Regions from separate parts of the Homo sapiens genome. Here region 1 is linked to region 2. Evidence: fine-mapped expression QTL. Tissue or cell type: whole blood. Region 2 holds a variant in brackets; the other region holds the start of a gene. All regions are shown on one strand. Distances are from middle to middle.

Region 1 (4,000 bases), 98 kb before region 2:
ATTTGATGAAAATCCATAAGAGGTTATGCTAAACTGAGAAGCATAAGGGTGGATCTACCATTGCCACCTCCTCTTTGTAGCAAAAAAAATCTTAACACGGCCCCCTCCCAGCTGTTGCACTGAGGTGACTAAGGATACATTTTGAGGAAGTAGCTCCAAGAACATTTCCATTTTCACTGTGCCTTCACATACATCTAATGGAAATGAACAGCACCCTTCATCCATCCACGGAAGCGATTAAGAAAAGGGTGGGATGGAAAAATTAACCCAACAATATTAGATCAATACGTAGTATTTAAGTGTCCATAATGTGCCAGGCTGAAGATGCACGGGAAAACCACACTAGCCGGTCTGTCAAGGGCTTGAGAATACCATAAACAAGAAAACAGACGAACCAATTTCAGACAGCTGCTAGAAGGAAGATAAAATGAGACAGGCAAGTATGAGAGGCGCGAATTCCTGAGTGGATGACGTAGGTCTCTGAGAGGTGACTTTTGAGCCCGTATCTACATGGTAAGTGCCTCGCAGTGACCTGGGGCCGTAGCGTTACCATTTAAAGCACAGACCATTAAATGCAGAAATTATCAACAAAATGAGAAATAGGAATTTCAAAGTCTCAAAGTGAACGACGGAAACTGAAATCTACAAATTAGAAAAAGGCGCAGAATTTTGAATATTCTTGTCGCCCAATCAGGACAAGGCTGGGACCCGGCTGCGCGGCCTTCGTCCAAAATACACAGAACGGCTGGTATCCACAGGAGGCCCCATCGCACGGCAGAACTGGTGACCGGACACAAAAGCTGCTGCCAAGCGTCAGTCATACAGAGCTGTCACGCAGTGTTTGCGGAACCCGGGCTGAATTGTGTCCTGGAGTTCTCTTAAATGACAGCCGAACTCAGCCACTTCGTTTTAGAATGAAACAGACCCAAGGAGCCACCAGGGCGCGTGTGGGGCGGGAGTGGGGGCGGGTAAAGAGGCGGATTCCCAACAGCCTAATTGAGAACCGACTCCTGGGAAGGCTAAGCAGCACAATGAGTAAAGACACGCTCTAGATTCAAAAGCAAATCCAATGACGCACTGGGGACCTCGAGTTCCAAATAGTTAAAAAGCTACGTATGCCATTTCCCATGACCTTCACACTAAAATAACTTACTTTATGAAAAGAAACTAAGGGAATAAGTGAACAAGCTCTTTTCTAGTGATTAGGTGGGTGGCTCTGAAAAGAGCCTTTGGAGTCAAGCAGCCGGCGACTCGAGCGAGCGAGCGCCAGGTCCCGGCAGGGACTCACTTGGAGCTGGTGTACTTGGTGACCGCCTTGGTGCCCTCGGACACGGCGTGCTTGGCCAGCTCGCCGGGCAGCAGCAGGCGCACGGCCGTCTGGATCTCGCGGGATGTGATGGTGGAGCGCTTGTTGTAGTGCGCCAGGCGGGAAGCCTCTCCCGCGATGCGCTCGAAGATGTCGTTGACGAAGGAGTTCATGATGCCCATGGCCTTGGACGAGATGCCGGTGTCGGGGTGGACCTGCTTCAGCACCTTGTACACGTAGATGGAGTAGCTCTCTTTGCGGCTGCGCTTGCGCTTCTTGCCGTCTTTCTTCTGGGCTTTGGTGACGGCTTTCTTGGAGCCCTTTTTAGGGGCCGGAGCGGATTTTGCCGGTTCAGGCATGGTAAGACACAGTACAAACGCGGCTTAGCCAAGAAAAGAAGTAAGAGAATGGGCGGGCCTGATTCTTTTATAACCACCTTATGCAAATTAGGGCTCCGAAAGTCGTTCATTTCCATTGGTCCGTGTGCGGACCTTGCGTTTTCAGCAATGCGTACGTAACAACACCGACTCTTGACTTGATTGGCCGGTTCTGAAGCCATATTAGGACCAATGAAAAACTCGTTCTTGACCCCACCCCTAGGAAAGCTTATAAAGGCTTTCCTCTTGGTTCTCTTTCAATCTTATTTTGTTGCGAGGTTCTGAGCGTTGTCTGTGTTTAACCTTGATTTCAGTCATGTCTGGTCGTGGCAAACAAGGAGGCAAGGCCCGCGCCAAGGCCAAGTCGCGCTCGTCCCGCGCTGGCCTCCAGTTCCCGGTAGGGCGAGTGCACCGCTTGCTGCGCAAAGGCAACTACGCGGAGCGGGTGGGGGCCGGCGCGCCCGTCTACATGGCGGCGGTCCTCGAGTACCTGACCGCCGAGATCCTGGAGCTGGCGGGCAACGCGGCTCGGGACAACAAGAAGACGCGCATCATCCCTCGTCACCTCCAGCTGGCCATCCGCAACGACGAGGAACTGAACAAGCTGCTGGGCAAAGTCACCATCGCCCAGGGCGGCGTTTTGCCTAACATCCAGGCCGTTCTGTTACCAAAGAAAACCGAAAGCCACAAAGCCAAAAGCAAATAAATGCAGACAAACAAACCAAGACCAAAGGCTCTTTTTAGAGCCACCCAAGTTTTCAAAAAAAGAGCTAATGCGCTATTTCGTGATCAGCCCTTCATTTGACACTTTGGTGGCTCTTAAAAGAGCCTTTGGGGTGAATGAGTATGGTGTCAAGCCTCTTAATTACTTGTTCTTGCCAGGCTTGTGACTCTCCGTTTTCTTGGGCAACAGGACAGCCTGGATATTGGGCAAGACGCCGCCCTGGGCAATGGTGACACCCCCGAGTAACTTGTTGAGCTCTTCGTCATTCCTCACGGCTAGTTGCAGATGGCGAGGGATGATGCGCGTCTTCTTGTTGTCCCGAGCCGCGTTGCCCGCCAGCTCCAGAATTTCCGCGGTCAGGTACTCGAGGACCGCCGCCAGGTACACCGGGGCGCCTGCCCCGACCCGCTCCGCGTAGTTGCCTTTGCGCAGCAAGCGGTGCACTCGCCCCACCGGGAACTGGAGACCAGCGCGGGACGAGCGCGACTTGGCCTTAGCGCGGGCCTTGCCTCCCTGCTTTCCGCGTCCTGACATTACGGCTAAAATTGCAGTTACAGCTTCTTTTACAAGGAGAAGAATGTGGAAAGAATAACCAATTTGATGTAATTTATAAGAGCTACCGGGAGGGGTGAAGGGAAGTCGTTTGATTGGCTAAAAGCGGAGCCGTATCTAACAGCCAATAGAAAAGCAGAAAGCCGCCTCTTGGTTTGCGTCCTGCACTGAAAGGAAATGACGGATTTTGTAAGTATCTACCAATCGCTGAGAGCCACATTAAAGCCCCTTATTTGCATGCCAGGATCTTTAAAGAGAGCAGGCTTTCAAACAAAATACTGGTTTTGTTTTACTGAGAGGCACTGTGGGTTTTTGTTTTGTTTTGCTTTGCTTTGTTTAGTTTACAGCCGGGAAATCCCAATATGGACCCTAAGGAACTGCAGAAGACATCCTTAGACGGAGAGTTACTCTCACGAAAGAGTAGGGGATTCTGAAGCCGATGATCCCCTTGAGCTCTAAACTGCCAAGTCCCGCCCTTTCTGTCTCGTCACAGCCAAATTCCCTTTAAAAATACATGTACTACTAAGGCTGCCTCCTTTCTCGCCCCTAAACTTAAGTCGCCCGCAGCGGCGTGTCTCCGCCCCACCCCCACCCGCCTGCACTCCTCGGAATCCGGTTTGACCGAGGCTAGAATAGATTTGTCATCCTCCTCTTGACCTCCAGGAGGCGGCCTTCAAACTTGCTCCCTTGGCTTTCAAAATGTCGCCCTGTTTTTCTTCTTACCTCGCCGACTTTTCTTATCCTGCTCCCCCATGCCACTGCCCATCTCTAAATCTGCGAGTCCAGCTGGACTGTTTCCCTGTCTCCAATTCTTCACTTATCCCGAAGAGTCTTACCCATTTATATGCTTTCAACTAACGTCCAAATTTGTTTCAGAAGCTCAGACCCTTATGCCTAACTGCTTACAGAATACTTCAACCTACTTATCCCAACGAGCACCTCAAACTCAAACTCTACCTCAGCCTATCCGAACGCGAACTCATACAAACAACCTCCCCTCTTTGCCCTCTTTTCCTGAAATGCACCAGCATACTTACAGAT
Region 2 (4,264 bases):
GATCCACCCGCCTTGGCCTCCCAAAGTGCTGGGATTACAGGCGTGAGCCACTGCGCCCGGCCTCCTCTGTACTTTTAAACCTGCCTGCTCACTAAGACATCCAGTCTCTTAACCACCTTATTCATTAATTCAACAGAAGTATTTGGAGTGCCTTTGTGTGAGGCACTATGCTCATGAGTAAAAACACAACAGTGAACTAGACACAATCCCTATCCTCAAAAGCTTCCAGCATGGAGGAAAAAACCACAAAATCCTACCATCTTCCTGAGCAATTTCAACAACCACCTGCACAATTCATCTAACATTTCTGCCTTTCATAATCTTTTCAAATATTTTCACAAACAATTATAATAAAGCAATGTTAGAGAAGGGAGTGTTATCTCCTATAGGGAGTCAGGAAAAGCTTCCCCAAGGAAATTATGTTTCATCTATGAATTAAGATTAATTAAGATTAAGCAGCAATTGGAGAGACAAATTGGGAAAGGAAGAACGCTCCAAGCAGAGGAAACATGCGCTAAACTTCCGTGGCAGGAAGGAACATAAAGATGAGAATGTTGCTACAGGAGGATGAAGAGAGGGCCTAGTGGACCCTGTTAAAGATTTGAGATCTTATCTTAAATATAATGGGAAGCCACTGAAAGGTTGCACGCAGAGGTAGAACATAATCAGATGTGAATTGTTAAAAGATCACCCTGGTTACAATGTGAAGAGTTTGGAAGAAGCACAGTGGATTTAGGGAGAGAATTGATTAGAAAATTCTTGCAAAATAGCGCTAAACCAGGATAAAAGCAGTGAAGGTTGAGGGAAATGGATAGATTCCACTTTATCTCTTCTTACCTAACAAAGTAAAACCAATAATTGATCACCTAATTTACTTTCCTGTGAAAATTTAGTTTCCTTATCCATTTCATCTGTCCAACTTGGATGGATCCCACATTCTAACTTCCCTGCTAACCTTGCAGAGCAATATGACTACTAACATGTTATTCAGCCACCTTGCTTTTATTGAAACACTGCTATCTTTGCTTTAGTACCTCAATCAATCTTCTGAGCTACTATCCCATACCTTCACCATGCTCCTTGAGCCTCCCACCCAAGCCACATCACCTCCCCTTACTCCTGTCAAATGACCTTGCCTCCTACTTCACAGAAAAAAAAATTACAAAGCAAAGCAAGAGGGGTTCCTTTAGGTTTCCTCCCCTGCTCCTATTTGTTGGCGGTTACTCTCCTCTTCCCTGCAAATCTCCTTGTCCTCAACCTACAAAAATAGGCTTCTGCAGAAAGAGAATGGCACTGGCTTATATATAAGATGAACACAATCATCCTTACTTCTGCTCTCTTTGTAGCATTTGACACTTACTGACCACTCTTCCTGCTTCTCTGGCCCTGTGTCTTGGTCGTCTTTGTGGACTCCCATTTCTGTGACTGAACCAAACTTAGTGCACCCACCATTCTAGCCTTAGGCCTTCCATCTTCTCATTGAAACTTCATTCACAGCCCTAAGCACCCAAATGTTCATGACTCCAAATGTATCTGCACCCCCAAATTCTTTCCACCTCACCTGGGAATCATACAGGCACTTAAAATTCAGTATATAAAAACATGAGCTTATTCTCTCATCTCTGTCTCCCATCCTTTCAAACTATTCCTCTTCCAGTACTGCCTATTGTAGCAAATAGTCCCCAATCATCCAAGTCACAAGCCAGGGAGCCGCCCTGGACTTCTCTCTTGCCTTATCCACACAAATAATCTTTCACTAAGTTTTACTAATTTTACCTTAAATATCTCTCAAATCCCTGCAAAACCTTCCACAGGCTACAGCTCTTTTATTCTATCTCAGGTTTTCATAACCTGCACCCCAGGAAATAGCTCCCTAACTCCTCCCTCTACCTCTCTC[C/T]GTCAATTGATTGGCCTCCACAGGCAACCACTATGAGCAATTTAAAATGCCAGTATTATAGTATTACATCCCACTGTTCTAAATTCTTCAATGGATTTTCAATGGCTAAAGCCTAAGACTCAAATTCCTATACAGAGGCCAGGCACAGTGGCTCATACCTGTAATCCCAGCACTTTGGGAGGCCGAGGCGGGCAGATCACTTAAGGTCAAAAGTTCAAGACCAGCCTAGCCAACATGGTGAAACCCCATCTCTGCTGAAAATAGAAAAATTAGCCAGGCGTGGTGGTGTGTGCCTTTTATCCCAGCTACTCGGGAGGCTGAGGCAGGAGAATCACTTGAACCTGGGAGGTGGAGGTTGAGTGAGCCAGGATCATGCGACTGCACTCCAGCTTGGGCGACAGAGCGAGACCCCATCTCAAAATAAACAAACAAAAAAACAAATTCCTATACAGGGTCGGGCATGCTGGCTCACGCCTGGTGGCTTGCACCTATAATCTTAGCACTTTGGGAGACCACGGAGGAAGGATCACTTGAGTCCTGGAGTTTAAGACCAGCCTGAGCAATGTAGCAAGAACCCATCTCTACAAAAAAATTAATTAATTAATTTAATTAGTCGGGTGTGGAGGTGCACTCCTGTAGTCCCAGCTACTCAGGAGGCTGAGGTGGGAGGATCACTTGAGCACAGAAGGTTGATGCTGCAGTCAGCCATGATGGCACCACTGCACTCAGCCTGAGGGACACAGTGAGACCCTGTATGAAAAAAAAAAAAATCTATACAGGACAAACAAGGCCCTTCATGATCTGGCTCTACCTAATTCTCCAGCCTTTTCTACCTCCCATTATTCCCTTCCTTGTACTGGGAGTTCCCGAAGTGTACTATGTGCTTCAAATCTCAGTCCCTTTGCACATATTGTTCCCTCTAACTGGAGTAACTCCTAGGTGTAGCAGGTGAATTCTCACCTCTTCTTTAAAACTAACTTAAGTACTACCTCATTTGCAAAAGTTCTCTGACTTCCTAAATTGCCCACTTCTTTCTTGGTGCCCCCACTGCACCCTGTATGCTACTTCTACCATAATGTTTATCACCCTGCATGGTAGTTGTGTTTATTTACATGTTTGTCTCCCCACTAAACCAGGAACAATTTGAGGGCAGGAATCTTGGCTTGTTCATCCAATATTCCCCAGCATCCAAGCACAGCAGGCAATTTTTGTTCAGATGAACTGAAGTATATTTGTATGGTACCCCATCACACACACACACACACACACACACACACACACACAGTACTGTTGATAGTCTATCAGTGTTGTACACAGACAAGTCTAAAACAGTAACTCATCTCAAAGACATATGTTTAAGATTGTTATACGACTTTATTTGCAACAAATTTCTCTTCCTAAACATTGTTTAGCTCAGAGTAATATTAAAATCAGTCTGCATATTCCAAGTGTCCAACTTACTTAATAACAGAGAAAAATGACCCAAAATTAAAGACCATGGATAATAACCCTCTATTAAAATGCCAGAGAAACTACTGACCGTACATTCTCTCATTTACAACATCCCCCAAAGCTTCCAGAGTTTCACTCTCTAACCGTCTCCTGATTCCACTGAAGCATTAGAGCTGCATTTGAGTCCTCTCCAACTCTTCCCATAACTCACTGGAAAACCACAACATTCAAGACTGTCAAAAACTTTAAAAAGTCAGAGACTCCTCCATGTCTATGATGTCAGTCCCAAGGAATCCAGACAGAGAGAAAGAGGAGGGACAGAGGCACTTAGAACTTTCACATAATTCTTGATTAGGTGGGAGGGAGAGATGAATAATTGTCTTGGCAATTTGTTTTTAGTTAATATGGGTCCTTCAAGTCAAAGAAACAAAATATAACCTTCTTAGAAAATATGACCAATTTTACTATATTTTTTCTTTTTTCTTTTATCTGTGGATCTAGTCCTGAATCCAGACCAATCCTACTCTAAAGGGATCTATATAACACTAAATGTTACAATCCAGAAGTAACAAGATGAGTCTCAAAGTAAGAAGAGAAAGAAAGTAATATGTTTTAAAGCTTTAGATATTATTTCATTTAAACTTCCAAACAACTCTGAGAACTTGGTATTGTTACTCCACATCACAGATGAAGATACTAAAGCTCACAGAGGTTAGGTAATATGCCCAAGGCAACACAGGTAAAAGTGGCAGACCCAGGATTTTTATCAACCCAGCCCAGCTGACTCCAGAGAACATACGCTCACATACAATGCCACATTTTGTCCAGGGAGGAGGACTAAGAAAACACGGGCAGTCCACCATGTGGAAGTCCACCCTCACTGCTTCAACTCCTCTCAACTCCACATCAGAAGAA

The links. PIP is the estimated chance that this variant, and not a neighbour inherited with it, causes the effect.
Region 1: H2BC21 starts here. The variant in region 2 is fine-mapped to the expression of H2BC21 in whole blood (TOPMed, PIP above 0.99).

The regions. Positions count from the first base shown.
Region 1 is chr1:149,884,976-149,888,975 of GRCh38, forward strand. It overlaps H2BC21 (H2B clustered histone 21), which reads right to left and starts at 1,707. Exons shown (of 1, transcript NM_003528.3): 1 at 1-1,707. The coding sequence starts at 1,665. The coding sequence ends at 1,285. It overlaps H2AC20 (H2A clustered histone 20), which reads left to right and starts at 1,943. Exons shown (of 1, transcript NM_003517.3): 1 at 1,943-2,436. The coding sequence starts at 2,000. The coding sequence ends at 2,389. H2AC21 (H2A clustered histone 21) reads right to left here and starts at 2,990. Exons shown (of 1, transcript NM_175065.3): 1 at 2,494-2,990. The coding sequence starts at 2,941. The coding sequence ends at 2,549. RefSeq lists enhancers at 251-300, 310-903, 681-760, 1,171-1,260, 1,331-1,620 and 6 more.
Region 2 is chr1:149,983,093-149,987,356 of GRCh38, forward strand. The region is part of intron 1 of OTUD7B (OTU deubiquitinase 7B); the gene reads right to left. Among named protein-coding and RNA genes, the nearest start is that of OTUD7B, 26 kb to the right of the region's middle. The variant C/T (reference allele first, on the strand shown) is at 1,898.